7 linked regions of the Homo sapiens genome follow. The protein of the gene in region 1 interacts with the protein of each later gene in a biochemical or structural test. Each region holds a gene or a part of one and is shown in the gene's direction. Other genes may lie near its edges.

What was found.
Region 2: the proteins of LDB3 (region 1) and ADGRA2 interact in a test that uses a peptide from one of them, tested with the Homo sapiens proteins (one large-scale study listed by IntAct).
Region 3: the proteins of LDB3 (region 1) and ACOT6 interact in a test that uses a peptide from one of them, tested with the Homo sapiens proteins (one large-scale study listed by IntAct).
Region 4: the proteins of LDB3 (region 1) and SCN4A interact in a test that uses a peptide from one of them, tested with the Homo sapiens proteins (one large-scale study listed by IntAct).
Region 5: the proteins of LDB3 (region 1) and PLCB2 interact in a test that uses a peptide from one of them, tested with the Homo sapiens proteins (one large-scale study listed by IntAct).
Region 6: the proteins of LDB3 (region 1) and SLC16A7 interact in a test that uses a peptide from one of them, tested with the Homo sapiens proteins (one large-scale study listed by IntAct).
Region 7: the proteins of LDB3 (region 1) and CXCR1 interact in a test that uses a peptide from one of them, tested with the Homo sapiens proteins (one large-scale study listed by IntAct).

Annotation. Positions count from the first base shown.
Region 1 is NC_000010.11:86,667,159-86,671,310, forward strand, and holds the start of LDB3 (LIM domain-binding protein 3), read left to right. Parts: upstream 1-1,352; 5' UTR 1,353-1,412; exon of another isoform or gene 1,413-1,510; 5' UTR 1,511-1,533; coding exon 1,534-1,626; intron 1,627-4,152. UniProt on the Homo sapiens protein: May function as an adapter in striated muscle to couple protein kinase C-mediated signaling via its LIM domains to the cytoskeleton.
Region 2 is NC_000008.11:37,795,709-37,799,682, forward strand, and holds the start of ADGRA2 (adhesion G protein-coupled receptor A2 precursor), read left to right. Parts: upstream 1-1,174; 5' UTR 1,175-1,560; coding exon 1,561-1,826; intron 1,827-3,974.
Region 3 is NC_000014.9:73,611,381-73,615,316, forward strand, and holds the start of ACOT6 (acyl-coenzyme A thioesterase 6), read left to right. Parts: upstream 1-1,136; 5' UTR 1,137-1,191; coding exon 1,192-1,652; intron 1,653-3,936. UniProt on the Homo sapiens protein: Catalyzes the hydrolysis of acyl-CoAs into free fatty acids and coenzyme A (CoASH), regulating their respective intracellular levels.
Region 4 is NC_000017.11:63,945,419-63,948,918, reverse strand, and holds part of SCN4A (sodium channel protein type 4 subunit alpha), read left to right. Parts: intron 1-153; coding exon 154-308; intron 309-855; coding exon 856-1,029; intron 1,030-1,751; coding exon 1,752-1,874; intron 1,875-3,280; coding exon 3,281-3,500. UniProt on the Homo sapiens protein: Pore-forming subunit of Nav1.4, a voltage-gated sodium (Nav) channel that directly mediates the depolarizing phase of action potentials in excitable membranes.
Region 5 is NC_000015.10:40,297,936-40,301,435, reverse strand, and holds part of PLCB2 (1-phosphatidylinositol 4,5-bisphosphate phosphodiesterase beta-2), read left to right. Parts: exon of another isoform or gene 1-769; intron 770-1,961; coding exon of another isoform or gene 1,962-2,027; exon of another isoform or gene 2,028-2,190; intron 2,191-2,207; coding exon 2,208-2,308; intron 2,309-2,471; coding exon 2,472-2,638; intron 2,639-2,727; coding exon 2,728-2,874; intron 2,875-3,055; coding exon 3,056-3,213; intron 3,214-3,476; coding exon 3,477-3,500. UniProt on the Homo sapiens protein: The production of the second messenger molecules diacylglycerol (DAG) and inositol 1,4,5-trisphosphate (IP3) is mediated by activated phosphatidylinositol-specific phospholipase C enzymes.
Region 6 is NC_000012.12:59,704,029-59,707,528, forward strand, and holds part of SLC16A7 (monocarboxylate transporter 2), read left to right. Parts: intron 1-743; 5' UTR 744-773; coding exon 774-990; intron 991-3,500. UniProt on the Homo sapiens protein: Proton-coupled monocarboxylate symporter. Catalyzes the rapid transport across the plasma membrane of monocarboxylates such as L-lactate, pyruvate and ketone bodies, acetoacetate, beta-hydroxybutyrate and acetate.
Region 7 is NC_000002.12:218,164,163-218,168,355, reverse strand, and holds the start of CXCR1 (C-X-C chemokine receptor type 1), read left to right. Parts: upstream 1-1,393; 5' UTR 1,394-1,448; intron 1,449-3,111; 5' UTR 3,112-3,144; coding exon 3,145-4,193. UniProt on the Homo sapiens protein: Receptor to interleukin-8, which is a powerful neutrophils chemotactic factor. Binding of IL-8 to the receptor causes activation of neutrophils. This response is mediated via a G-protein that activates a phosphatidylinositol-calcium second messenger system.

The DNA of each region.
Region 1 (4,152 bases):
TGACTTTGGGCAAGTGACAAAACAACCCCGTAATATGGGTGATCCTACCTTGTACCTTGCATGTGCCAGGCCCCAGGAGTGAGGCTAGAAGCTGAGAAATGACTCACACCCAGGCCTCTACTGACTCCTCAGGGTCCAAGCCAGACCCCTCCAAGAGGGCCAGCAAGCAGCCAACCCAGTTGCCTCCCCTGAGCCTCAGTTTCTCCAACCAAGGAGCCAGGGTGGGCCTTGATCTATCTCCAGACCACATAGGGGCCTGAGGTCTTTCTTGGGGAAGGGGTTGGCCCAAAGACCGCACTGGCAGAAGTCCCAAGGTGCTGAGGCCCCCATCCAGAACACACTGTCTCTGGGGTACAGGCTGAACATGCCACACGTGCTTCCCCCTCCCTGCCCCTCCTGGCCCTGTGTCTAGCAGCTGAGCAAATGGCGTCTCCTCCCTTCTCCCTGCCCCCTGCCATTCCTGCGCAAAGGGCACGGGGCCTGGCGTGTGGCACTGGCAGCTGGAGCTTTCCATGCTGCCGTCAAGTTTTCCAGAGCACAAAGACAGGAGAGCCAGGAATAACTGGCTGGGCCCCCAGAGGGTCTGGAGGGGATGGGCCTGCCTCAGACCTGCTTTCAGACCCTATGCCAAGGGGTGCAGGCAGAGGGCCAGCTGCCCAGGACCAGGGCTTTGGGAGGCTTCTGTGGCTACTGGGAGCCCATTATCTGGCATGCATTCTGTAGGAATCAGCCCAGGCTCCAGTGTGACCTGGGTCCACTCCTTGTGTGACCTTGGAGAAGTCATTTAACCTCCCTGAGCTTTGTCTCCTGCGGGCCCAGGTGGCAGCTTCTCAGGATCCCAGGGAGTGAAGGGCCCATACTGAGGTTGGCTATGCCCAGAGCTGCTGTTATGATGATCGTTTTTATGGCTGGACAACCCTGGGCCAGTCACAGACCAGCTGGAGGCTCAGCTCAAGCCAAGGCACCTCCAGGGCCCCATACTGGATAAAGCACAACCCCAGAATCCTGGCCAGGGACCACACGGCAGCAAAGCCCCTACCCAAGGGAGCTCAGCCCCTGGTCTTCTGAGCAAGAGGATGGGTACCACTGGGCAGGAAGAGCGAGTGTCTACGCTCTCCAGAGGACACAGGAGCAAGGAGACCAGAGCATTCTCACCAACCAGGCCAGTTCCCCTTCCTCCCCCCTGGGGGGTGCTGGGTGCCGGACACCCCTCCCCAGGGGCTATATTAGCCGTGTGAGTCATGGTGGACCGGCTGGGAGGCGGCAGGCTGGCAGGCACAGTGTAGGGTTACAGTCCATTTATGGGCGCAGCCGAAGGCAGATATCAGTGTCGATGGCATTCGCTCCCAGCTATTCTTAGGAGCCTCTCAAGAGCTCCACGCAGCCCGGCTGGGCAGCAAGGGACAGAACAGGCAAGGCTGGGGGTCAGGGGCAGGGGCAGAGGTGTGGACCGGGCAGGCGGAGTGCCTGAGTGCCCTCTCACTCAACCCTCTCTACCCTTTGTCTGCAGAGGCGGCCGCTGACAGCACCAGCATGTCTTACAGTGTGACCCTGACTGGGCCCGGGCCCTGGGGCTTCCGTCTGCAGGGGGGCAAGGACTTCAACATGCCCCTCACTATCTCCCGGGTGAGTGCACCCTGCCACAGCCTGGCACCCGATGGGGCAGGCACGCTTGGAGGAGGGCATGTGTGTCCGTCTGTCTGTCTGTCCTTTCTGAGCCTCTCAGAAAGCAGAGCATGCCCCATCCCCTGGGACTGGCCTGGTCCTCTGGTCTCAGCCACAGCTGTTTGCTCACTGGAGCGCGCCGGCCTGTTATGCATGTGAGACATCATGAGCAGGTGGTAGGTGTTTTTAGCAGAGAAGAAAATGCTGAGTTTTCAGGCAGGCAGGCAGGCAGGCAGGCAGGTAGCTGGACAGAGAGTACAGCACCTTCCTGATCCCTTTACTGTTAGAGTGGGCTCAGGGTGCCCCCAAGCCTTGAGCATTTCCCTAGATATGGGCAGCTGCTTTGGGAAGGGAGTATTCCCAGCATGGAGAGGGCAGGTGATGGGCAGTTGGATAGATGGACAGACAGACGGTTGACCTTGGCTGCCCAGCTGTCAGAGTGTGGGGCTGGGCTGGACTGAGTACTGGGCACCTGCTCCATCCCAAACTTGAGACACCAAGACCCTGGCTCATGGGGCTGGGCGCTTCTCCCCATTCACCATGGCTGCTTTGTCTGTCTCAGGTCTTGTTCCCCACAAGTGCTGGGGCCTGGTGAGATGGCCCCCTATCCTGCAGTGTCTGTGATGGGGAGCAGCATGGCCTGATGCAGATGACACAGAACATCAGGGGTTGTCTGAGTAACTCTACCGCCTGGCTGGAGACAGCAACACCAGAGAGGCAGAAAGTTAGCCATGCTCCTGAGGAAGCACTCCAGGAGCAGGGACTGATGGGGGAACAGCCCCCAGACCGTAGTAGGCACTCCGTCAGTTTCTGTCAAACAAAGAGACTCCCCAGCAAGGCACTGGTAGACCCAGGGCTGAAGGCCCCAAGGCTCAGGGCGAACTGTGAGGCATACAGGGCAAGGACAACCCTGCCTGGTGGCTGAGCCCCTGACCGTGCTGTTCCGGGCACAAGGCCAGAGGGGGAGGCCCCCAGTCTGTCACTGGAGGGTGGTAGGTAGGCAGGGGTATCTGGGCTACTGCCCACCAGGGGAACAAGGGGACAGTTTCTTCTCTGGGGCCTTAAGGACTTGCCTTGGGCCTGGGGGCTGGAGGAAGGGGTTGGAGGGGAAGCACTGAAGTGGGCAAGGCCTGAAGGGGCTTGGCAGAGGGGCCAGGGAACCTGGGCAGCGGGTCAGGAGCCAATGCCCCCAGTGGAGGAGTAATCTTTTTTTTGTTCCACGGGTACTTGAGGGGACCCCAGAAGTAGAAGCCCCACCCAGGGATGCCGTGAGAGCCTTATAATAGCCATAGAGGCCACATGCTTACAGGAGGGGTGCTGGCCTGGCTCTGGTGCAGGGAACAGGCCCTGACCTCCATCCTTCAGTTGCAGATGTGGCTTGTTCTAACCTGGAGATTCCACCCCTCCAGATCTACTGCCCTGGAGACCACAGGGTCCTGGGCACCCACAGCCTTGCACACTTTGCATGAGGTGGTGACCTGTGAGCATGTGAGCCCCAGTGGATTTCCCACTGCCCTTTCCCACAGCTCCCCACCCCCATGCTTGCAGGACTCCTTCCTGTATAAGGTGGAGCCTCTGTGTGCTCTCTCATGGGCCCTGTGGCCTCCCCTGCCTGGGACTGAGCCCACATCTCCCCCAGCTCCACCATCTCGAGGCCTCCTGCTGGTGCTCCCTGCCCTATCCCTATGGGTGCAAATTGGCCACTGGGCTCAGTGGCACTCAGGATAGCCAATGACCTCACCCAGGGTCTATGTGCCACCTGGCCCCGGCCAGCCAGGGGCTTAAATGGCAGCCCAGAAGCCTTAAGCTAGATAGCAGGAGGAATGTCCTTACTCTGGGGAGGGGGTATGCAGGGATGTGCTGGATCCAATGACTGTGGGGACTTCTAAAAATAGAACCCGAAGCTCGGGCAGGGCACCGGGGGATGGGCATGATATGGCCTCTCGGCTTCCTTTAGGGGCATACCCCAAATCACCTAAGCCGCGGAGCAGGCTGGACTGGGTACTGGAGCCTTCCCCAGGGCTCGGAGCCTCTTGAGAAATTTTGGTGGTAGGCTGCTGATAGCCTGGGCTTGTGTCCTGGTTCAGTGCCGCTGGCAGGGCAGGCCTTGTGGACACAGCCCTGCCATCCCACCAGGGCTGTAGGATTTACTGCCGGGGCTCGCAGGGCCCTTCTGCACCAGGGACATCCCCCTACGGGGGAGGCATGGCCAGAGCTCTCTGGAGGAACCCCACTCCCACCCCAGCCAGGACCTGAGCCTGTGCCATAGGGCACCAGAGGCAAGAGTGTGTGACCCTGTGGGGTGGGCAGGCAGGCGAGGCTGGGATCGTTACCTCGCTTCAGAGCCTGGCAAACTGAGGCTCGAGTCTGCTCACAGGACAGGGATGTCCATGGGTGGATCTCCTGTATCCTGTCACCCCTAACTCCCATGCTGGCTTGCTCACCCCTCTAACTGGGACTAATAGAGAGGCACTGGGGAGGGTCTGT
Region 2 (3,974 bases), on another chromosome or scaffold:
AGGCGCCCACCACGACGCCCGGATAATTTTTGTATATTTAGTACAGACAGGGTTTCATCATTTTGGCCAGGTGGATCTCAAACTCCTCACCTCAAGTGATCCGCCCGCCTCGGCCTCGAAAAGTGCTGGGATTACAGGTGTCAGCCACCGCGCCCGGCCTGCAGGCAGCTTTATACCCACCACTAGTTGTCAAGGTCACCCCTGCCACCACCAGTCCTCTGCCTTTGGAAACCATGTGCCCCTCCCCCCCACCACACTCTCTTATTCTAATGCCACGATTTACTGGGCATCTAATGCCACTCTATAAACTGGGGAGCAGGCAGAGCCCCATTTCAACCCCAGAGATCTGCTACCCCAGCAAGCTAGGGGCTGTGTCCAAGGTCAGACAGTAATGAGAGGCAGAGCCGAGTCTGGAATAGGGGTCTCCAGACTCACTGCGCAGTGCTCTTTCCACACCCTGCTGCAAAGCCCTGCTCCTTCTCATCTACTTTTCCCTTGTCCCACTCACTGTCCCCGAAACACACACACACACACACACACACACACACACAGCGTTGTGGAAAATGTAGGAGGCCCAGTCTAGCCTCTAGCCTTGTCTGCCTTGGCCTTTGACCTCTCCTTGGCCGAATGACATGCACCCCCCGCTGAGCGAGGTCACCGCAGCGGAGGAGGGTCTGCTGCCTCCTTGTCTCGGCTGCCATCCTCCTGCGGCTGCCTCCACCGGAGCTGGAAGGAGAGTGAGAGCCGACTTCCAGACTGATCATCGTGTCAGGGGCCAAAGGAAACCTCGGAGCCTTCCACCAAGTTCAACCCAAAACAGGGCGCCCCAGACGTCTCTGTCCAAGCCCGCGGGTCCAGGAGGGCCCCAGCAGCCTGGAGACGCAAGCTGCACCGGCACGGACGAGGGAAATTTTGTGGAAGGTGGTGGTGGTCGGCTCAGAGGTCTGAGATGGGTTGCGGAAAGGAAGGGTCCTGGCCCGGGGCGCGGGGACAAGCGGGAGAGGAGTGTTGGTGCAGGGCGGGCGCGGGGACGCAGGGTCCTCGAACCAGCTGGCCCGCCCCCACTCGGCAGAGGGTCTAGGCCTGGCCGCGTGTCGGTCGGCGCTAGGGCCCCGCGGAAGGCCCGGGCGGGCGGGGACCGGCGGCGGGAGCGGCGCGGCGCGGAGCTGCCTCCATCCATGGCACGGAGCGGCGGCGGCGGCGGCAGCAGGAGCCCGGCGCGATCCGCTAGGTCCCAGCCCAGCGCCCAGCGAGCAGGCGACGCGGAGGGGCCGGGCCTCCAGTGTCCCGAGGGCCGGGCGCTGAGACTCCGGCCGCGCAGCTGGGAGCTGCCCGCGCTGCGCTGACAGCCGCGCCGACGTCCTCCCCGCCGGGGCGCTCGCAGGACATGCCCCCGGGGCGCGGCGGCGGGGACCCCGGGGCTCGCCTCCGCCCAGGGCCCCCCTCCACGCCCTCGGGAGCCCCGGGCCCCCGCTGAGCACTCCTCCCGCACGCCTGGGTCCCTCCGGCCGGCGCGCAGCCCGGCCCCAGCGCTGTGGGTCCCCGCGGGGCGATGGGTTGATGGGCGCCGGGGGACGCAGGATGCGGGGGGCGCCCGCGCGCCTGCTGCTGCCGCTGCTGCCGTGGCTCCTGCTGCTCCTGGCGCCCGAGGCTCGGGGCGCGCCCGGCTGCCCGCTATCCATCCGCAGCTGCAAGTGCTCGGGGGAGCGGCCCAAGGGGCTGAGCGGCGGCGTCCCTGGCCCGGCTCGGCGGAGGGTGGTGTGCAGCGGCGGGGACCTCCCGGAGCCTCCCGAGCCCGGCCTTCTGCCTAACGGCACCGTTACCCTGTGAGTACCCTACCAGGCCAGTTCCGTCCGAGCCGGGACTGGGGACGAAGGGAGGCGAGACGGGAGGGGTGGGAGCAGGGGGAAGGGGGCTATCCCCCCACTTCAGAGATTTCTGGACAGGCCTGGGTTCAGGCCCCCAGAGGGGAAGATTGGAGGAGCAGGGGAGAGACTGGGGCTCCAGGAGCGTGGAGGCGGGAAGGGGCTGCGGGGGACAGGCGCACCCCAGAGAAAGGCACCGCAGGCGCCCACTCACCTGCACAGGTGAAGTGGAGAGCACGCCTGCAGGGCACCCACGCCCCGGATTTCCAGCCTGGACTAGGGTTGCGGACTTTGGGGACCTGAGAAGGGTGAGAGCGGGGAATGCTCAGGAAAGATCGACGCTCGTGGCCCAGGAGGGGGCTGTGGTCCTAACCACTACGGTCGCGTCCCGGACTGGGCTGGAGGAGTCTCCGGATTTACCTGGCTGGCCTTGTCCCTTCAATTGGGGTCATCCCATCCTTGCCCCCTGGCCTGCCAGCGCCGCTTCCAGCCGGTCTCCTTAGGGCAAGGGGAGGCTGGGCTCAGAAAAGTCGGCCCTTGGAATACCGGCGCTCCTGGGCTGCAGGAGACCCTGGCGTCCCCATCCCTCTAGAGGCCCCTCTCCCACGGCGCCGTTTGTGCAGTGAGCTCTGTGCTGGGTCCCGCGTCCTTGCCTCTCCTTTGCCTCTCCTGGAAGTAACTCGAGCTTTGGCTGTTTCTCCATTGACTTCGCGCAAAGATTGCGAAGAAAGAAACGCGGCTGGGGAAGCGGGGTTCCCTCACCGCAGCCCACCCGGGCCTCCTTCCGCGACTTCCCTCTTAGTCAGGGCCTCAGTACGCCTTTGCTTTGCTGGCAGCGAGCGCTGCAGCGCCGCAGCCCGACCCCAAGCCTCCTACAAGGGGGTCGCAAGTCCCAGCAGCCGCGCGAGCATTGGCGACCCCTCCCCACCGCAGAGATTTCCTGCGCCGACCACGTGCTCGCAGCTCCACGCACGCCGTGGATTTGAGGGTCGGGCCCCCGCGGCCGCCGCTTCCTTTCCTGTCCCAAATCCAGCCTAAGAGCCGCTTCCCTTTCCCTGTCCTCCTGACCCCAGTGGCAACCGTTTCTCCACCGCCCCTTGCCCGCAGTCGGGGCTGGCCCAGTCTTTTCGATTGTGTCCAGAACAATACAGTAACGCCTCTGGTTGGGTGAGTTCAGAGGCTGCCCGCTTCCTGACAGGACACAACTGGTCAGCCTCTGACGCTGGCCGCCCGGCCTGCATTTTCCCCGGCCCGGGTGTGTGTGTGCATGTGTGTGCCTTAAGGGTGGAGGCGGTGTGTCTGCTCGCTGCCGCCTCCCTGCTGCTCAGGGTAAGGCTGTGGCCAGGGAAGGCACCTGTGGCTGTTCAGGGCAGCTCTCTCTGACTGTCCGCTGGGGTTTGAGGGTCCAGGCAGGCCTGGGCATTCCCCAGCTCACTTAGTTCTGGAGGAGAAAAATGCTTGCTCTGCGGAACAGTCGGTAGCGTCTGCGTGAGTCCCAGCTGCATAAGAATTCAGAGCTGAGGCCGGGTGCGGTGGCTCAGGCCTGTAATCCCAGCACTTTGAGAGGCAGAGGCGGGTGGATCACGAGGTCAGGAGTTCGAGACCAGCCTGACCAACATAGTGAAACCCCGTCTCTACTAAAAATACAAAAATTAGCCAGGCGTGGTAGCGCGCGCCTGTAATCCCAGCTACTCAGGAGGCTGAGGCAGGAGAATCGCTTGAACCCGGGAGGCGGAGGTTGCAGTGAGCCGCGATCACGCCATTGCACTCCAGCCTGGGCGACAGAGCGAGACTCCGTATAAAAAAAAAAAAAAAAAGAATTCAGAGCTGAGAGCTGTGCGTGCATGTGTGCACACTCTTGTGTCTGCTCATGCACATATGTGGGATGTGTGTTCTCTGCGTGTCTCTGTGTCAGGGTTAGGGAATCCTAACATATCAAAGGCAGAAGGAAGTGGGGGAGGCGGTAGATAGAAAGGCAGTTTTGCAGTACATCTTAGAATGATCAGGCCATGGTTAATTCCTATCCACGCCACTCCACAGAGAGAGCTGGGCCAGCTCTTGGTAAGAATACATTAGAACCGGCTGGCAGCAAAGGTGACCCCTAGCTCA
Region 3 (3,936 bases), on another chromosome or scaffold:
CTATCAGACTGCCCCCTTCCCTTGAACCTTCAGATTCAGGGTTCTACACCGAATCTTGTTTCATTGTTTTTGTTTTTAAATCTTGCCCATGCCTTTGTAGATAGTACCTTTATAAAACTCTCCTCAATTACACAGGCTGAGAGTGCCACTTGCTTACTGCCAGAACTCTGTATGCATACAACCCAAAATGGACTCTGCCAGTGATTAGATTTGTGAGGTAAGAAACAAAACAAAACTTTCACTGGGTACTAACCTACAGGTGTGTCAGTGTAGTGTTTTTACACATTAGCCCATTTAATGGTCACAATAAGCCTTTTCAGATAAGAAAACTGAATTTAGAGGGTTATGTTTCTTGCTAAAGATCACCAGGTATTAATATTAAGGATCAGGGTCAGACCAGAACTCGGCTAGGTCTGCCTCCCTAAACATCTGCTTTGCTCCAGGTACCATTAGCCCTGGAAAAAAGGCTTGGTAAGGGACTGAGGGGTAAAGGACGGATTACGACCATGTTTCTCCAAGGGGTCACCTGAGTACAATCACCTGGGATGCTTTTTCAAAATCTAGATTCTTGGACTGTATCTCTCTCAATCCTTTAGCTCTCAGTGGTTTTTGTGCCTCTATTTCGACACTCACCACATTGGATTGCAGGAATAGTCATTAACTCTTTTTTTTTTTTTTTAGACGGAGTTTTGCCCTTGTTGCCTAGGCTGGAGTACAATGGTGCAATCTTGGCTCAATGCAACCTCTGCCTCCTGGGTTCAAGCAATTCTTCTGCCTCAGCCTCCCAAGTAGCCGGGATTACAGGCATGCGCCACCACACCTGGCTATTTTGTATTTTCAGTAGAGATGAGGTTTCACTCTGTTGGTCAGGCTGGTCTTGAACTCCTAACCTCAGGTGTGATCCACCCACCTCGGCCTCCCAAAGTTCTAGGATCACAGGCGTGATCCACCGCCCCCGGCCGGATTGGTCATTAACTCTTATTTCAGCAGATACTCTTTCATTTGGGACACTGGTGTATTTGCACAAATTCTAGGCGCCCCACGCAGCGGCCTGGAGCCTGTCCCCAAGTCCAACCAATGGGAGTAGTGTTAAGGGCTCCGCCCTCGACTACTTTCCAGCGCTCGGCAAAGCCGCCAGGCCCGCCCACTGACTCCGCGGAGCTGGGTCGCCCCTGTTCTACCCAGATTGGGATGGCAGCGACGCTGATCCTGGAGCCCGCGGGCCGCTGCTGCTGGGACGAGCCGCTGCGCATCGCAGTGCGCGGCCTGGCCCCGGAGCAGCCAGTCACGCTGCGCACGTCCCTGCGCGACGAAGAGGGCGCGCTCTTCCGGGCCCACGCGCGCTACCGTGCCGACGCCCGCGACGAGCTGGACCTGGAGCGCGCGCCCGCGCTGGGAGGCAGCTTCGCGGGGCTCCAGCCCATGGGGCTGCTGTGGGCGTTGGAGCCCGAGAAAGCCTTGGTGCGGCTGGTGAAGCGCGACGTGCGGACGCCCTTCGCCGTGGAGCTGGAAGTGCTGGACGGCCACGACACCGAGCCCGGGCGGCTGCTGTGCCTGGCGCAGAACAAGCGCGACTTTCTCCGGCCGGGGGTGCGGCGCGAGCCGGTGCGCGCGGGCCCGGTGCGCGCCGCGCTCTTCCTGCCGCCGGATGAGTAGTCTGCCCAGAATTTGGTCGAGCTCTGCGACCCCCACCGGCCCCTTTCCTGTCCTGGGAATCGCGTGATTGTGGAACATCCCTGAACTTGTTCCTTCGCTCCAGAGTCTGTCATGGATTCTGAGTCTGGGCGTCCGCTGTTGCCCAGGCTGGAGTGCCGTGGCTGGATCGTAGCTCACACTGCAGCCTCGAACTCCTGGGCTCAAGTCCTCTCGCCTCAGCCTCCTGAGTAGCTACTCCAGTCTTTCCTTTTTAAGTTTCACGTCCCTCCCTGGAGGCACCACCACTTTAGCTATGTGCTGAATAGTGCATTCAACTTATTATATATTTATTGAGAGCCACTATGTGCCAGCCATGTGGTTTTGTTTGAATACGATATGGGCAAAACCTTAAGCTGATGTGCAAGAAGGATTTTTGCCTCCTTTCACATCAAACTTCCAAAGAAGCTAAAATCCACAGTATTGGCAATGCCCTTTAATTGTTTAAAAACACACACAAAACTGCCTGACAGTCCTCTCCCTTCTATCATAAACATGCTGTACGTGGTTCTCAACCTGCAATGATTAGCCGCCCTCCCTGGGGGAAATTTGGCAATATCTGGAGACATTTGTGGTTGTCATATCTGAAGGGAGAGGTGCTATTGGCATCTAGCAGGCAGAGGCCAGAGATGCTGCTAAACATTCCACAATGCACAGGACAACCACCAGAACAAAGAATTATCTTGCTGAAAATGTCTGTACTACTGAGGTTGAGGAACCCTAGTCTAAGTAAACACAGGATGTTTGCTAGGTAAAGGTAGCCCAGAAAGAAGACTCCTGATTAATCCCTTCTAACTAAATTCCTGACTTAAACCTCTACCATATAAAAATGATGAGCCGGGCACAGTGGCTCAGGCCTGTAATCCCAGCACTTTGGGAGGCTGAGGTGGGCAGATCACTTGAGCCCAGGAGTTCAAGACCAGCCTGGGCAACATGGTGAAACTCTGTCTCTACAAAAAAAAAAAAAAAAAAAAAAAAATTAGGCAGGCATGGTGGTGCATGCCTGTAGTCCCAGCTGCTTGGGAGGCTGAGGTGGGAGGATTGTTTGATATCAGGAAGTAGAGGTTGCAGTGAGCTGAGATCACGCCACTGCATTCCAGCCTGGACAACAGAGTGAAACCCTGCCTCAAACAACAACAACAACAACAAATTCTAGAGTTGCAACAGCACATAGAATCCTTAAACCGAATTCTGTGATTATTCTCCAAAACAAGAAAACTTGCTTTATTTTTACAGCTCTTCAGCAATTCTTAGCCTTAACTCGTGGCTGCCCACTGTACTGTGAATTCCTGGGGCTGGAATTGGGTCTTACAGATTTCTAAATATCCATGTTCCTAGAGGCTTTCGCAAGGATATAGTAGGAGCTCAATAAATCATACTGACTGGGCCAGGCGCAGTGGCTCACACCTGTAATCCTAGCACTTTGGGAGGCTGAGGTGGGTGGATCACTTGAGGCCAGGAGTTCAAGACTAGCCTGGCCAACATGGCAAAACCCTACCTCTACTAATTATATAATACAAAAAAATTAGCCAGGCATAGTGGCTCACACATGTAGTCCCAGCTACTAGGGAGGCTGAGGTGGGAGAATCGCTTGAACCCGGGAGGCTGAGGTTGCAGTGAGCCAAGATTGCGCCACTACACTTCAGCCTGGGCGACAGAGCGAGACCCTGTCTCAAAAAAAAAAAAAAAAAAATCACACTGACTAAGAATCAACTAAAACCTTTCATTAAAAACAAACAAGGAGCCGGGCGCAGTGGCTCACGCCTGTAATCCCAGCACTTTGGGAGGCCGAGGCAGGTGGATCACCTGAGGTCAGGAGTTCGAGACCAGCCTGACCAACATGGTGAAACCCCGTCTCTACTAAAAATACAAAAGTTAGCCGGGCATGGTGGTGGGTGCCTGTAATCTCAGGAGGCTGAGGCAGGAGAATCTCTTGAACCCAGGGGGCAGAGGTTGCAGTGAGCCAAGATCGCACCGTTGCACTCCAGCCTGGAGGACAGAGCAAGACTCCATCTCAAAAAAAAAAACAAGGCGGCCAGGCGCGGTGGCTCACGCCTCTAATCCCGGCACTTTGGGAGGCCAAGGTGGGTGGATCACGAGGTCAGGAGTTCAAGACCAGCCTGGCCAAGATGGTGAAACCCTGTCTCTACTAAAAATACAAAAAATTAGCCGGGCATGGTGGCGGGCGCCTGTAATCCCAGCTACTCAGGAGGCTGAGGCAGGAGAATTGCTTGAACCCGGCAG
Region 4 (3,500 bases), on another chromosome or scaffold:
GATGGAGCTGGGTGAGGGAGGAGGTGGGGGCCCTGGGTCTGGGAGCTGGAGAGGGGCATCCTGGGATGCCATGGGAGGGCGCTGACTGTGCACCCCAAGGCAACCCCAGGCCCATGATGTGGTGCCTGTCCCTGTCCCCCCTCACCCCATCAGCCTGCGTGCAGCGCTGGCCCTGCCTCTACGTGGACATCTCCCAGGGCCGTGGGAAGAAGTGGTGGACTCTGCGCAGGGCCTGCTTCAAGATTGTCGAGCACAACTGGTTCGAGACCTTCATTGTCTTCATGATCCTGCTCAGCAGTGGGGCTCTGGTAGGCACTGCCTGGGAGCACGGGTCAGGGGCAGGGGCCAGGCCCACAGCAGGTCCTCTTGGGGCTCCCTGTCTCCACACACAGGAAGGGCCATGCTCTGGTCAGTCCCAAACCCTGAGAATCCTAAAGGAACTCGCTGTGCCTCCGGGATAGGTTATAGGATGTGCTGACTTTCTAACATGGCAGAGGTGCCTCCCTTATTACGTGGGTGCTGACTTTTGTGCACTCTCTGCTGATAAGGAGGCAGGAGACCCCTGGGAACTGGGGGCGCAGGACTGAAGATGTGTCACTGTGGACCTGCCCAGCAGATGATGGCAATTTGCTGTTGTTGGGCTTGGAGAAGGGGGGCTGAGGGATTCTCCCCACTGGGAAACGCTCTCATCCCCATGATGGGTGGTGGGAGTCCAGGAGATGCGGACAGCCTGTCCCTTGGGCTGGGCCCCCACGGCAGACCCCCGGGAACCAGCAGCATAGAGCAGGGCAGGGGACCTGGCTGCCACCCCAGCCTGCTGGACCCCAGCCACCCTGGTGGTGCTGGTGCCCCCAGGCCTTCGAGGACATCTACATTGAGCAGCGGCGAGTCATTCGCACCATCCTAGAATATGCCGACAAGGTCTTCACCTACATCTTCATCATGGAGATGCTGCTCAAATGGGTGGCCTACGGCTTTAAGGTGTACTTCACCAACGCCTGGTGCTGGCTCGACTTCCTCATCGTGGATGTGAGTCCCCCCACGCTGGCCCCGTAGCTACATCCAGAGGCTGTCAGTGTGGCGGGGACCTCAGGAAGCCCACGCCCTGAAGGGCAGGACCTGCCCGAGGCCACCCCCAGAGTCAGACCCTCAATCAGTGCTGCCCTTCTCAGACAGAGCTGCCCAGGGAGGGGTTAGGGACTGGGAGGCCTTCCCTTCTCCTCAGGGAAAGGAGGCCTTGGGGGAAGACAGCAGGCAGGAGGGCTACTTACCATCCCTGCCAATAGGAGTGGAGGAGTTTCTTACTTCATACATTTTATTTATTTATTTTTAAGATGGGATCTTGCTATGTTGCCCAGGCTGGTCTTGAACTCCTGGGCTCAAGCAATCCTCCTACCTTGGCCTCCCAAAGTGCTGGGATTACAGGTGTGAGCCACCATGCCCGGCCAGGAATGGAGGATTTTCTTAGCCTCTTAGATGGGCTCACAGGCCTCCCCGAAGGAGTCGGGTACCATCCCTCCTACTCACAGTCATCCCCAGTTGGTTGATGACATCACTGAGGTGGTGCCAGGCTCCTACAGGTACTGGGACAGGTCCCAGGGCTGCTCTTCCCACCGGACAGGACCACCCACTAGGGAGGGGATCTAAGGGAGACAACCAGGAGCTGTGAGTCCAGGAAGACCCCCGTGGCCTGGGCTTGAGGGGAGGCTGGGGGCCTTGCACGCACTGATCCCCTCACCCCTCCCCTGCAGGTCTCCATCATCAGCTTGGTGGCCAACTGGCTGGGCTACTCGGAGCTGGGACCCATCAAATCCCTGCGGACACTGCGGGCCCTGCGTCCCCTGAGGGCACTGTCCCGATTCGAGGGCATGAGGGTGGGTGCTGAAGGGGCCTCTGGGGTGGGCTGGGGATGGGGGACCGGCCACCTTCACTGCAGGGTGGAGGGTGCATGTCTATACTCCAACCACCACCAGAGGGAAGCAGAGAGCTTGGACCCACGGCCCTGCCTGAGGCCAGGTCTGGCCCCCACCTCCCCTAGCTGTCCTCCCCGCAGGCCATCTTCTGCCTGCCCCATTCCCACTCTCAGCCCCCGATCCAGCCCGCCCTTAGCTTACCTCTGCCACTACTTGAGGGGAGCAGAGACTGCAGAAGCACCCAGGAGGGCCCCACGGCCAGGGAAGAGGAGGAAGGAAGGCAGGTTTATGTGGTGTTTATGGGTGGTTTATGAGTGGGTTTATGGGTGGCCCTCCCCAGCCTCAGACTGAGCCACCCAGGGCTTTGAAACAAGGTGCCTGCACCCTGGCTCTGAGCCTTCCCCTCACCCCCCACTGATGAGCTTGGCGTCACGGTTGGGGCCATGCCCTTGAGCTTGGGGTCAGTTTGGGGAAGATCCACTCAGGCCCTGGAGAGCGGAAGTGGCAGGTAAACACAGGGTTGCGGCGGGGTGGGGGGGGGGGCAAGAAAAATGGGACTTCCCCAGGAAGAGAGATCTGCTGGGAGCAAGACCTGCTCCAGCGGGACAAATTTCTGCAAATCTAGAGGCCATGGCGAGCCCCCCCAAGCGGCCCCTTCCTGTCCCTGCAAGAGGCCAGCCGAATGCTGGGCCCTCTGACCCCCCAGAGCCAGGGAGCCCTCCCGTTGAGGGGAAACAAGCTGCCTGTGGCCATGCAGCTGGTCAGTGCCCCAACCAGGAACAGAGCTCCCCTGGGCACACCAGGCTTGTGCCACCCACTCTAGAGGTCATGAAATGGCTCCTCCTTAAAAAGAGAGGGGTGTCAGATCCAGCCCAGTCTGCAGTGGTCAGGTGGGCTGTGTGACTAGGGCTGGTGGGGATGGGGCTTCTGTCCCAGAGCTCCTGCTGCTTCAAAGACCCTGGTGCCCTCTTTTCTGTGCCTGTGTCTGGGGCTCTGGGGCTGAAAACCCATGAGCAGGGGCTGGGTCACGTGAGCTGAGTTTCCTATGGGGGCTGAGCAAAGAGTGTTTGTCTCCTGCCTGGTGACCTGTGACCAGGCTGCTTCCAGAGAAACCCAGCACCCCTACTCTGGGCTGATGGCTCCAGTCAAGCAGAGAGCCCTCTTGACCACCAGGCCTGCAGCTCCCTCCCCCTCCCCCTTACCACCCCCAACCTGCACACACACAGCCCAGCAGGTCGGCCCTCCTCTAGGAAGCCCTCCCTAATTGACAATGCCCAGCTCTGCCTGGTCCCCTGGGTGGCGTAGAGATGTGGAGCCCTCTCTCAGAGGCTGGGAGAGGCACTGGCAATGGACCCCCTGGCCCCCAGGTGGTGGTGAACGCCCTCCTAGGCGCCATCCCCTCCATCATGAATGTGCTGCTTGTCTGCCTCATCTTCTGGCTGATCTTCAGCATCATGGGTGTCAACCTGTTTGCCGGCAAGTTCTACTACTGCATCAACACCACCACCTCTGAGAGGTTCGACATCTCCGAGGTCAACAACAAGTCTGAGTGCGAGAGCCTCATGCACACAGGCCAGGTCCGCTGGC
Region 5 (3,500 bases), on another chromosome or scaffold:
TAATTACAAGTTGTAAGCAGGGTCACCCCATGAAGCAACTTGTGTGAATTACAAAAAGGAGCCCTCTGGGCTGATATGGCCCTGAGCTAGGCTTCAAGCCTGGCCAATGGAGCGAATCTCAGCCCCTGTCCCTGCTTGGCCAGTGCTCTTGTGTGGGTCCCAGCCTATACCCCATGGAGTATTTTCTCCTGGTAAGAATTTGGAACGTTATAAATAAATAAAACCACGACCCCCATTGATCACCTGCCCACATGAATCCCAGGAGGAGCATTTACCCCACAGCCACAGCTCTGCAGAGTTGGTGACTCCTTGATGCAGTCAGTCACAGGGATCCAAATGTGGCGTTGGGGAGAGGTAGGAATGGGCTCCTGCGGCTCCCCTACAGCCAGCAACACTTACCTGTGGTCAGCACACATCCACCCTCCCTCTCTCCTGCTGCCTGAGCTCCTCCCTTGGCTAAGTCCTCCTTATCTATCTGCTTTCCTTGTGTCTCAGTAGAGGCTACTGACCCAACTTTGCTTGGAGCTGAAGCTCCAGAGACAGGGAGGGGTTTGGGGAGATCCAGTTAGACTCTCCTGCTCAGACCCTCTGCTCCAAACTAAGACTGATGTTGGCCTTCCAGTGTGATTCTGAAAGACATTTAATGTTTTTTTTGGGGGGGGAAGGAATGCAAAGGTGCAGAATCCCTGAATACCACAAATGTACTTTTCATTTCTATTTCTATAGATTTGCCTATTCTGGTGGTAAAGTAAATGAAATCATAAATATATGCTTTTCGATGTCAGGCTGTATTCATTTCTCATAATGTTTTCAAGGTTTATCCATGTTGTAGCATGCATGAGTACTTCATTCCTTTTTACCACCTAATAATATTCCATTGTATGGATATACCACATTTTGTTCATCTGTTTATCAGTTGGTAGATGTTTGGGTTTTTTGTACTTTTTGGTTATGAATATTCATGTACATGATTTTGTGTGAACATGTGTAAATTCTCTTGGGTATATACCCAGGGGTGGAATTGTTGGGTCATGTGGTCACTCTATATTTAACAATTTGAGAAACCGCCAAACTGTTTTCTAAAGTGAGAGCATTGTGTAGGGATTTATTTATTTATTTTTGAGACAGAGTCTCACTCTGTTGCCCGGGCTGGAGTGCAGTGGCGTGATCTCAGTTCACTGCAACCTCTGCCTCCCAGGTTCAAGCAATTCTCCTGCCTCAGCCTCCCAAGTAGCTGGGATTACAAGCATGTGCCACCATGCTGGGCTAATTTTTGTATTTTTAGTAGAGATGGGGTTTCACCATGTTGGCCAGGCTGGTCTCGAACTCCTGACCTCAGGTGATCCACCCTCCTCGGCCTCCCAAAGTGCTGTGTGGGGTTTTAGGTTAGTCACATCCCGCTGACACTTGTGATTGTCTGTTTTTTGTTTTAGCCATCCTAGTGGGAGTGGTATCTCATTGTGGTTTTGATTTGCATGTCTCTAACTACAAATTATATTGAGCACCTTTTCTGTGTTTATTAGTCACTTATATATCTTCTTTGGAGAAATACCTGTCCAAATCCATTGTCCATCTTTCAACTGGGTTGTCTTTTTGTTGACTTATCTCTTATCGGATATCTGATTTGCAAATATTTTATCCCATTCTGTGGGTTACCTTTTCACTTTCTTGATGGTGTCCTTTGAAGCACAAAAGTTTTTAATTTTGATGACGTTTAATTTATCTTTCTTTGTCCCGGTGCTTTTGGTGTCTCCAAATATTATTGTTGAATTGTCCTCCTTTCAATTCTATCAGTTTTTGTTTTATATATTATGGGGTTCTGTTGTTAGGTGCATATATGTTTATATTCAAATTGCTTCTTTTTGAATATTTGTCCTCCACTTAAAAAAGATAGCCTACTAGCCTGGCAAGCAGCATCATTTCTTCTGACCTCTTTTCTACCTCATTCTGGTTATTCTTAGTTCCGATCCTGCCCCAGCCAATGGAATAGCCACTGTACAAAATCAGGGTCAGAGCAAACCAGCTAAGCATGCTCTCTGCTCAGCAACCAGGGCCTTGAGAAGTGGATGCTTGGGTGTCCTTGAAGTTCTTCTGTCTGCCTTGAGCCCGCCTTCTGACCAGGTCCCCTTGACCAGGGCTGGGCCGAGTTTGTGGTTCTTAGCTCTGAGAAGGTGAGGGCAGGGGCAATAAGGTTACTATGCCCCTAGAATGACGCCATCAATCCTGAGGACTTCCCAGAACCTGTCTACAAGAGTTTCCTCATGAGCCTCTGTCCTCGGCCAGAAATAGATGAGATCTTCACTTCTTAGTGAGTTTCTTGGGTTGTGCTGGTCATGGGAAAAGGGTGGTGGCTAACAATCCCCTCCTCCCACCTGCCATGCCGGGAGTCAGGAGGCTTCACTGGACAAGGGGGTTGTCTAAGCCTCCAGGCCCAAGGGATATGGACCTGTGCTCTTCTCTCTGGCTTGAAGCCATGCTAAGGCCAAACCCTACATGACGAAGGAGCACCTGACCAAATTCATCAACCAGAAACAGCGGGACTCCCGGCTTAACTCCCTGCTGTTCCCGCCAGCACGGCCTGACCAGGTGCAGGGCCTCATCGACAAGTATGAGCCCAGTGGCATCAATGCACAGAGGGGTGAGGACTAAGGGAACCCCTTGTCCCCTGTGGTCCTGTCCTGCCTTGGCAGCGGGGTTGTAGCCTGACAGCTATCTCCTGTCCCCCAGGCCAGCTGTCACCTGAAGGCATGGTCTGGTTTCTCTGTGGGCCAGAGAACAGCGTGCTGGCCCAGGACAAGCTGCTGCTCCACCACGACATGACGCAGCCACTCAATCATTACTTCATCAACTCGTCCCACAACACCTACCTGACAGGTGGGCCCTGATAACATTGGTGCCAACCTCTGCTTTCACAGGGGTTCCCTGCATCCTCCACAGGGGTTGCCCACATGCTGCTGGCCCTGAGAATAACACAGACCATGATGGAGTGGCGGTAGGGGGAGAGCTGGGCTGCCTTTGGGTGATGCCCTCACCTCTTCCCCATCCTCTGGCTCAGCCGGCCAGTTCTCAGGCCTCTCCTCGGCTGAGATGTACCGCCAGGTGCTGCTCTCTGGCTGCCGTTGCGTGGAGCTAGACTGCTGGAAGGGGAAACCCCCTGACGAGGAGCCCATTATCACCCATGGCTTCACCATGACCACAGACATCTTCTTCAAAGTGAGACCCTGGGCACAGAGGCTGGTGGCCGTGGCAGTAGGGAAGGGCTCTGGGCCAGAAGCTTTGAGGGGTTGGAGGGCTGAAGCTAGAGAAGATGAATGGCTGGAAGGCCTCAGACCATTGGGGACCAGCAGGGATTGGGGGCCAATGGCGGCCATGCAGTTATATGTGTGTATTGAAACTAGGCAGGGGGGAAAAGTGCTATCACGAGACAGGCAGTCGGAACGCTGACCTTCTGTTCATGGAGTCTCCTTCTCCTCCAGGAAGCAATTGAGGCTATTGCAGAA
Region 6 (3,500 bases), on another chromosome or scaffold:
CCATCTCTACTAAAAACACAAAAATTAGCCGGGCATGGTGGCGCCTGCCTGTAATCCCAGTTACTAGGGTCTGAGGCAGGAGGATCGCTTGAACCTGGGAGGCACAGGTTCCAGTGAGCCAATATCATGCCACTGCACTCCAACCTGGGCCACAGAGTGAGACTCTGTCTCAAAAAAAAAAAAAAAAAAAGAAAAAGAAAAAAAAAAGAAAAAGAAAAAAGTGAGTTAGAATTATCTCTACAATCATCAAAAAGCGTAGACAACAGAAAGCAATAAAAAAAGCCAATAGATCATGTCAAAAGGCTTTGCATCCATCATTTCGTTCCTTGGCTTAGCCTTAAACAGGAAGGAAAAATGAGACCAAAAGTATCAATTAATGAGGTTAAAACAACTGGTGATTGAAGTAGAATATGTATCAGATCTATCTTAGAGCTATGACTGATGTATAATGTAAAATGGTACTTCAGTTCAGATCTAAATTCTTAACTTCACTTTGAGTAATTTTTGTTTCAATAATCAAATTAAATTATTTAAATATTTAGCCCACAATAATCAAAGGTATATAACTTGCATCAATTGTTTTTGTACATTTTCTGGTAATTTTCTGAGTATAAGAGTGTGAAAAATATTCATGAAAAATCATATTGTAGTTTTAACTGGAAAGTACTATTTTAGTGACTATGAAGAGTGGTAAACAAAAGGGGAAATAAAATTTAAACTGTTATTTCATTATTTTAATATAGGTTACTTGAATTTCCACTAGAGGAGCAGAAATGCCACCAATGCCAAGTGCCCCACCTGTGCATCCACCTCCAGATGGAGGATGGGGTTGGATTGTGGTTGGAGCAGCTTTTATCTCCATTGGATTTTCCTATGCATTCCCCAAAGCTGTCACCGTATTCTTCAAAGAAATTCAGCAAATATTCCACACTACCTACAGTGAAATAGCATGGATTTCATCCATTATGCTGGCTGTTATGTACGCAGGAGGTAAGCTTCTTGCAATAAATAGAATCCTGAATTAAGAAAATAATTCCTCCATGTCACAATGTTTTACATGGAGTGTCTTGGTATATTAAAACCCTGTTTTTATGTTATAGTCACTTAAAACCAATCAAAAGTATAATTAGAACTGAAATTTCAATGATTTTAGTGATTCAGCATCTTAAGCTATTTGCTTCGAATTGAGTCTTAATGGAGGATTTGTTTGAATAAGAATTTGTAAGCACAAAGCAAGATTTACTAAATTATGGAATTTCTAAGTGAGGCTACTTCATTTAGTTTGAAATAAAGTCCACAACATATTGCTGATGTCATTTTTCACAATCGCTACCTCTGGTAGAAATGCTTTCTTCTGAATGAGAAGAAAATTTAAGTTGCTGACAGTTTATAAGCCCAGAAAGTACATCACTTTAAGCTGCAAAAATGAAGGGTTAACATGTACATTCTAGACCCATTCAAATTTGTGTGACTGAAATAATTATTTATCTCTATAAGGCTCATTAAATAGGACATCTTTTTAACTTAAATTGTTGCTTGGAAATTATCTTATTACATTCTATGTTCAAATGAGGGTATTAGTCATGAAGGATAATGAAGAAATCAAAGTACCATCCCACTTCTAAATGTTGCAAATTTGGAATTATTGGTGCCTTATTATGTCATCTATTTTCTGTAAATCAATCTCAATAGCAGACCAGACTCTCTTGTAGAATTTTTTGAAAGTCATTACTTAAAATATGTCTTTTAGCGTTTTTATTTTTCAAGTGGATATTTGACTTTAAGGGATAGATATAGACTCAGACTATAGTCATTTAAAGAAATTATATCAATTATCTTCTGTGATTTCTTATTTTTCAAGTAAGGATAATATGGCTCTTAGTCATGAAAATATAACATTAGTATAATATCCAGTATTTAGTAATATTTACTTTCACCCAAGGCCTAAGTACTTAATATGTGTGATATGACTTAATCCTCTTAATGATCCGTGAAATAAGTATTATCTTCTCTTTATTCCATAGCTAAGGAAATATATACAATAGCTCTCCCAAGTCAAACAACTTGTTAGTAGTAAACAGAGACTGTAACTCCTAGCATTTAACACCTGTGGTCTCTGACTTTCTCATAACTTTCTCTTTACATCTAGAGAGTGACAAAGCCAGATCTGGCCCAGGCCTTCTATAAACCTGATTCAATTCTTTCTACTTCAGCTCAGTGGCTTGTGTACCACCTCCACCAATGTCATTTGTTCAGTGACATAATAATTATTCTTTAGGACATTATCTTTTTGTTGTACTACGAAGGTAAACAGTTGATCCTGAAATAATTCCCTGTGTGTGTGTGTGTGTGTGTGTTTATGTGTGTTGGTGTTGGAATGTGTTTTATACTTTTTATATATAGTGACTTTATATTAATACAGCATATGTTTCCCTTATTCATTTGGTTAGGTTAAACATGCATTTTTCTTCCAGTATCAAAAGGTATCCTTTAAATACTATTTGGGCGTGTCAATGGAAAATTCTACTTCTAACACACATTCTATGAATCTCCTTTGGACAGTTGCTTTATAGATTGTAAGAATGTTATTTCTTGTGACCATAGAAACAGTAGGTATTGTAGAGTAGATATTCCTGTATCCTGTGGGACAGGTGTTGTTTAATAATGTTTTGCTAGAGCAGCACACAGTCATCTTGATTTCAGCTCCAAAACGTGCTAATATTAAGATATGTAGAGGGTTTTCTTGCCTCTTAAATACAATTGAAACAGTCTCTTCTAGTGAATTAATATAAGTCCATTGAATTTGAACTTCAGGTCTTACATAGTCATAATTCCTTATTGAGCAGATAGTTGACTAACTCATCAGTAGGACAAAATTTTATATACTGTTTTAATTAAGCCAAATCTTAATTTACATTCTCTGTTAGTTTTCAGACCTCAGAGTCTTGATGACTTAAAACAATACAGGTTATTTCTTTCTGAAGCAATGTTTCAAAAAGTGGCTATTCCATCACCCAAGGCTTTGTATGTTGTTCCCTAAATCTGCTCCATCTGTTGGACAAATAGTAAAGGCAGACAGCATGGAAGATCATATGGACTATTTTAGGGGGTATGCCTGGGAGGAATAAACATTATTTCTGTACATATTCTATTGATCAGAACTCTTATACTGCCCTACCCAGAGTTAGGGGCCATGGATGCTGGGAAATACAGCCTTCCCAAAGGAAGAAACAGAACTACATAACATCTAGCCAGTCCTAGTCAGAGCCTGGTATCTCAATATTCTCCATTGAACAAAAGAAGCATGTGTTTATAGACTTGCCTATGACAGCCCTCCACCCTCTGGCTGGATCTAAAAGGAACATTAGAATGAACAATGGCATAATTAACTTTCTCAAACCACTAAATCTCAATATGAAATTATAAAAAGTAAATATACTATATTTACTACAAATAAATGTTTTTATTTTATTCATACTTATTTTTCTATTTTAATATAT
Region 7 (4,193 bases), on another chromosome or scaffold:
AATCCATGGCATGGTAAATTTGGCATTTGTGGTAGGGCAGGATTTATACTTGCACAGACTGGCATTAGCTCCAAACATTAGAGGAAGGTTGGAAAGAAGCAATGCCAGGCAGACCAACTGGGCTGTGTGGAAGTGAAGCTATCAGGCATACCAGTGACTTTAGTGTGTAGCCAAAAGCAATAGACACTGAATCGTGGTGGTGACTTATGGTCCATGAATCACAGGAGAAATGTCTCCCTTCATTTATTCCACAACCATTGATTGAGCACCTACTATATTCCCTGAAAGAGAACATAAACATGAATTGAAGAAGGTTCTTGCTGTCTCATGGCTCCCAAGCTAGAAGAGGGCTGACTTGTAAATGCCTCACAGCAGGGTTCATGTTATATGGAGAAGTGACGAAGGTGCCAGAAGACTCAAGCTAGGGGACAGCCATTAGCTGCTGGAGGCAGCTAAGGTGGGTTCCCAGAGAAGCCATTCTCCGTTACTGAGATGGGGGCTGCAGTGACCTTGACCACAGCTCTTCCATTCATGGACTGCCCCAGCTCTGTGGTCTCTCTGCTAACCAGCCAGACTCTGGGAGTGGCCTATGCCGTCAGCCTCAGGGCCATTTAAACCAACTGGTCATTGGCAGTGATTGTGCGAAAGAGTGGCTGGCGGCAAAGGAGGGTTTGTGTTCCATTCAAATACCCTCAAAAAGCCTGAAAAATAAGTAGAGATTGAGGCCAGGCCTTGGAGTTGTGGAAGGTGGAGAACACTGGGAAGCCAACCTCCAAAGAAGACCAGGTTGGAGGCAAAGGAGGAAGGGGAGCTCTCGTTGGCAAACCAACAGGGAAGCCAAGGATATCCCAGTAACTGCTCTCACATCCTTGATGAGAATGCCTTGAATCCGAGCTAGGCCACCTCAAAGAAGCCTGCAAAATAAGTAGAGATTGAGTGCCTGCTGTTCAAACACAACTCAAGCGCAGTCCTCCTCCTCTTTCCCACTGGATTGCCCCCAAGTCCCTCCTATGGGGGACTCCTTCTGAAGTCTCTGCTGTAAGTCAAATCCTTCGCCCTTTATACTTGGTCAGGAAGTTGCAAGCTTCCACAGGTGATATACTAGGGAATTTAGGAATAAACAAATGGAAATAAATTCAAGAAAAGGAAAATAATAAAAATGATCATCCATAGAGTGGAGAATTCAGATAATGGACCCTCAACCCCAGCTTCACACCTGGGACCCCCACTTGGTCATATGGACCCTGGCAGTCTCTAATCACAAGTCTGTGATCCCTTGACTTAAACTGTTCTTCCCCAAATGTAGACATGGGTGGGGCTCAGAAGGGAGGTGTCATCTGATGTGGTTTCCTTATTTCCGTTTATTCATCAAGTGCCCTCTAGCTGTTAAGTCACTCTGATCTCTGACTGCAGCTCCTACTGTTGGACACACCTGGCCGGTGCTTCAGGTAGGAAGCCACCTCTGTTTGCTAGGACTTTCTGTGGGGTAGGGCTGCTTGGCTTGACTTTATTTTGGAAAATGTATTCATTTCTGTGGGAGCTGAGGATTTCTGCTGCCCGCTTCCTCTCTTGTGACCACCACTCATACATGGAGTTAGCAGGTGAAGAGGACAGCCTCCTCATCCCCTCTTTTTATACCTTGCCCTTTTGTGGGAAGAGGCTGACCATTCCCCAATTTGATGTTTATTGCTTCACCTTAAGACTTTGTCTTCAGTGAAAATGCAAATACTGGTAGGGAGGGAACACACTAAAATGTGTGGATCTGAGTGGACTCATCATACACCCTCAGGCCTGGCAGCAAATGAGAGGTGGATGATTCTGTCTTCCTCGATTTGCAGATGAGAAGACTGAAATCTATAGGGGTACGAGACCCCACTCAAGGTCATGAGACTTATTTATTTATTTATTTATTTATTTTGAGATGGAGTCTCACTCTGTCGCCTAGGCTGTAGTACTGTGGCACGATCTCGGCTCACTGCAACCTCCATTTCCCGGGTTCAAGTGATTCTCCTGCCTCAGCCTCCTGAGTAGTTGGGATTACAGGTGCACGCCACCACACCCAGCTAATTTTTTTGTATTTTTAGTAGAGACGGGGTTTCATCATTTTGGTCAGGCTGGTCTCGAACTCCTGACTTCATGATCTGCCTGCCTTGGCCTCCCAAAGGGCTGGGATTACACACGAAACTTATTAATGGTAGAATCAGGATGGAATGAAGACTGGATGCTAGGTGTCTTTACAACCAACCTCGGTGACTTTCCAAAGGCTTTCAGACTTCTCTGGAGAGTCCTGGAGCTTTGAGGGGCTCTTTAGGGGCCATCTGGGTTCGGAGATTAGCACACTCTGCCCCACAGTGGCTCAGCTTTTATCTGCTTCACATACTGGGCTTCTGGGAAGATCTTATTTCAGTAAACTATTTCACAATAGGAAATATATTTGAAAACTCTTGAATGATTCTGTGGATTTTTTCAGGGGTGGAGGGTTTCAGGGACCAAGATGGAGACTTTATCTTCTCAAATACTTAAAACTCCTTTAGACAGAGGAACAAAATATGTGCTCCTCATTTAAAGAAGGCTTAAAATATACAGTTTAATGCAATGTGTTGTTATCACTTCCTTCCCCCAGTAGATTTTAAGGAGGGTAAACAAGAATCAGGGAGAACATAGGAATAGAAATAGTAGAAGGGGACACCTGGGAACAGGTTTGCCTTCTTGCATTTTGCTTAATGCTGGCCCTTCCCTGAATGTCTAAGACCAACCTGGTCCCCACATCCAAATGCACAGACACAGCTGAGGATGGAGAAGGCTAAAGAGGGACAGAGGTAGAGACATAGGCTGAGAGGAGGCAGTTGTAGGTTGAGCTAGGGCTAAGGTGTTTTCCCCATATTCCATCTTACCCCACACTCAGGCCAGGCCTTAGAGTTGTGGAAGGTGGAGAACACTGGGAAGCCAACCTCCGAAGAAGACCAGGTTGGAGTCAAAGGAGGAAGGAGAGCTCTCATTGCCAAACCAACAGGGAAGCCAAGGATATCCCAGTAACTGCTCTCACATCATTGATGAGAATGCCTTGAATCCGAGCTACTAAATCACATTTCCTTCCTTCTAACCTTCCAGTTAGATCAAACCATTGCTGAAACTGAAGAGGACATGTCAAATATTACAGATCCACAGATGTGGGATTTTGATGATCTAAATTTCACTGGCATGCCACCTGCAGATGAAGATTACAGCCCCTGTATGCTAGAAACTGAGACACTCAACAAGTATGTTGTGATCATCGCCTATGCCCTAGTGTTCCTGCTGAGCCTGCTGGGAAACTCCCTGGTGATGCTGGTCATCTTATACAGCAGGGTCGGCCGCTCCGTCACTGATGTCTACCTGCTGAACCTGGCCTTGGCCGACCTACTCTTTGCCCTGACCTTGCCCATCTGGGCCGCCTCCAAGGTGAATGGCTGGATTTTTGGCACATTCCTGTGCAAGGTGGTCTCACTCCTGAAGGAAGTCAACTTCTACAGTGGCATCCTGCTGTTGGCCTGCATCAGTGTGGACCGTTACCTGGCCATTGTCCATGCCACACGCACACTGACCCAGAAGCGTCACTTGGTCAAGTTTGTTTGTCTTGGCTGCTGGGGACTGTCTATGAATCTGTCCCTGCCCTTCTTCCTTTTCCGCCAGGCTTACCATCCAAACAATTCCAGTCCAGTTTGCTATGAGGTCCTGGGAAATGACACAGCAAAATGGCGGATGGTGTTGCGGATCCTGCCTCACACCTTTGGCTTCATCGTGCCGCTGTTTGTCATGCTGTTCTGCTATGGATTCACCCTGCGTACACTGTTTAAGGCCCACATGGGGCAGAAGCACCGAGCCATGAGGGTCATCTTTGCTGTCGTCCTCATCTTCCTGCTTTGCTGGCTGCCCTACAACCTGGTCCTGCTGGCAGACACCCTCATGAGGACCCAGGTGATCCAGGAGAGCTGTGAGCGCCGCAACAACATCGGCCGGGCCCTGGATGCCACTGAGATTCTGGGATTTCTCCATAGCTGCCTCAACCCCATCATCTACGCCTTCATCGGCCAAAATTTTCGCCATGGATTCCTCAAGATCCTGGCTATGCATGGCCTGGTCAGCAAGGAGTTCTTGGCACGTCATCGTGTTACCTCCTACACTTCTTCGTCTGTCAATGTCTCTTCCAACCT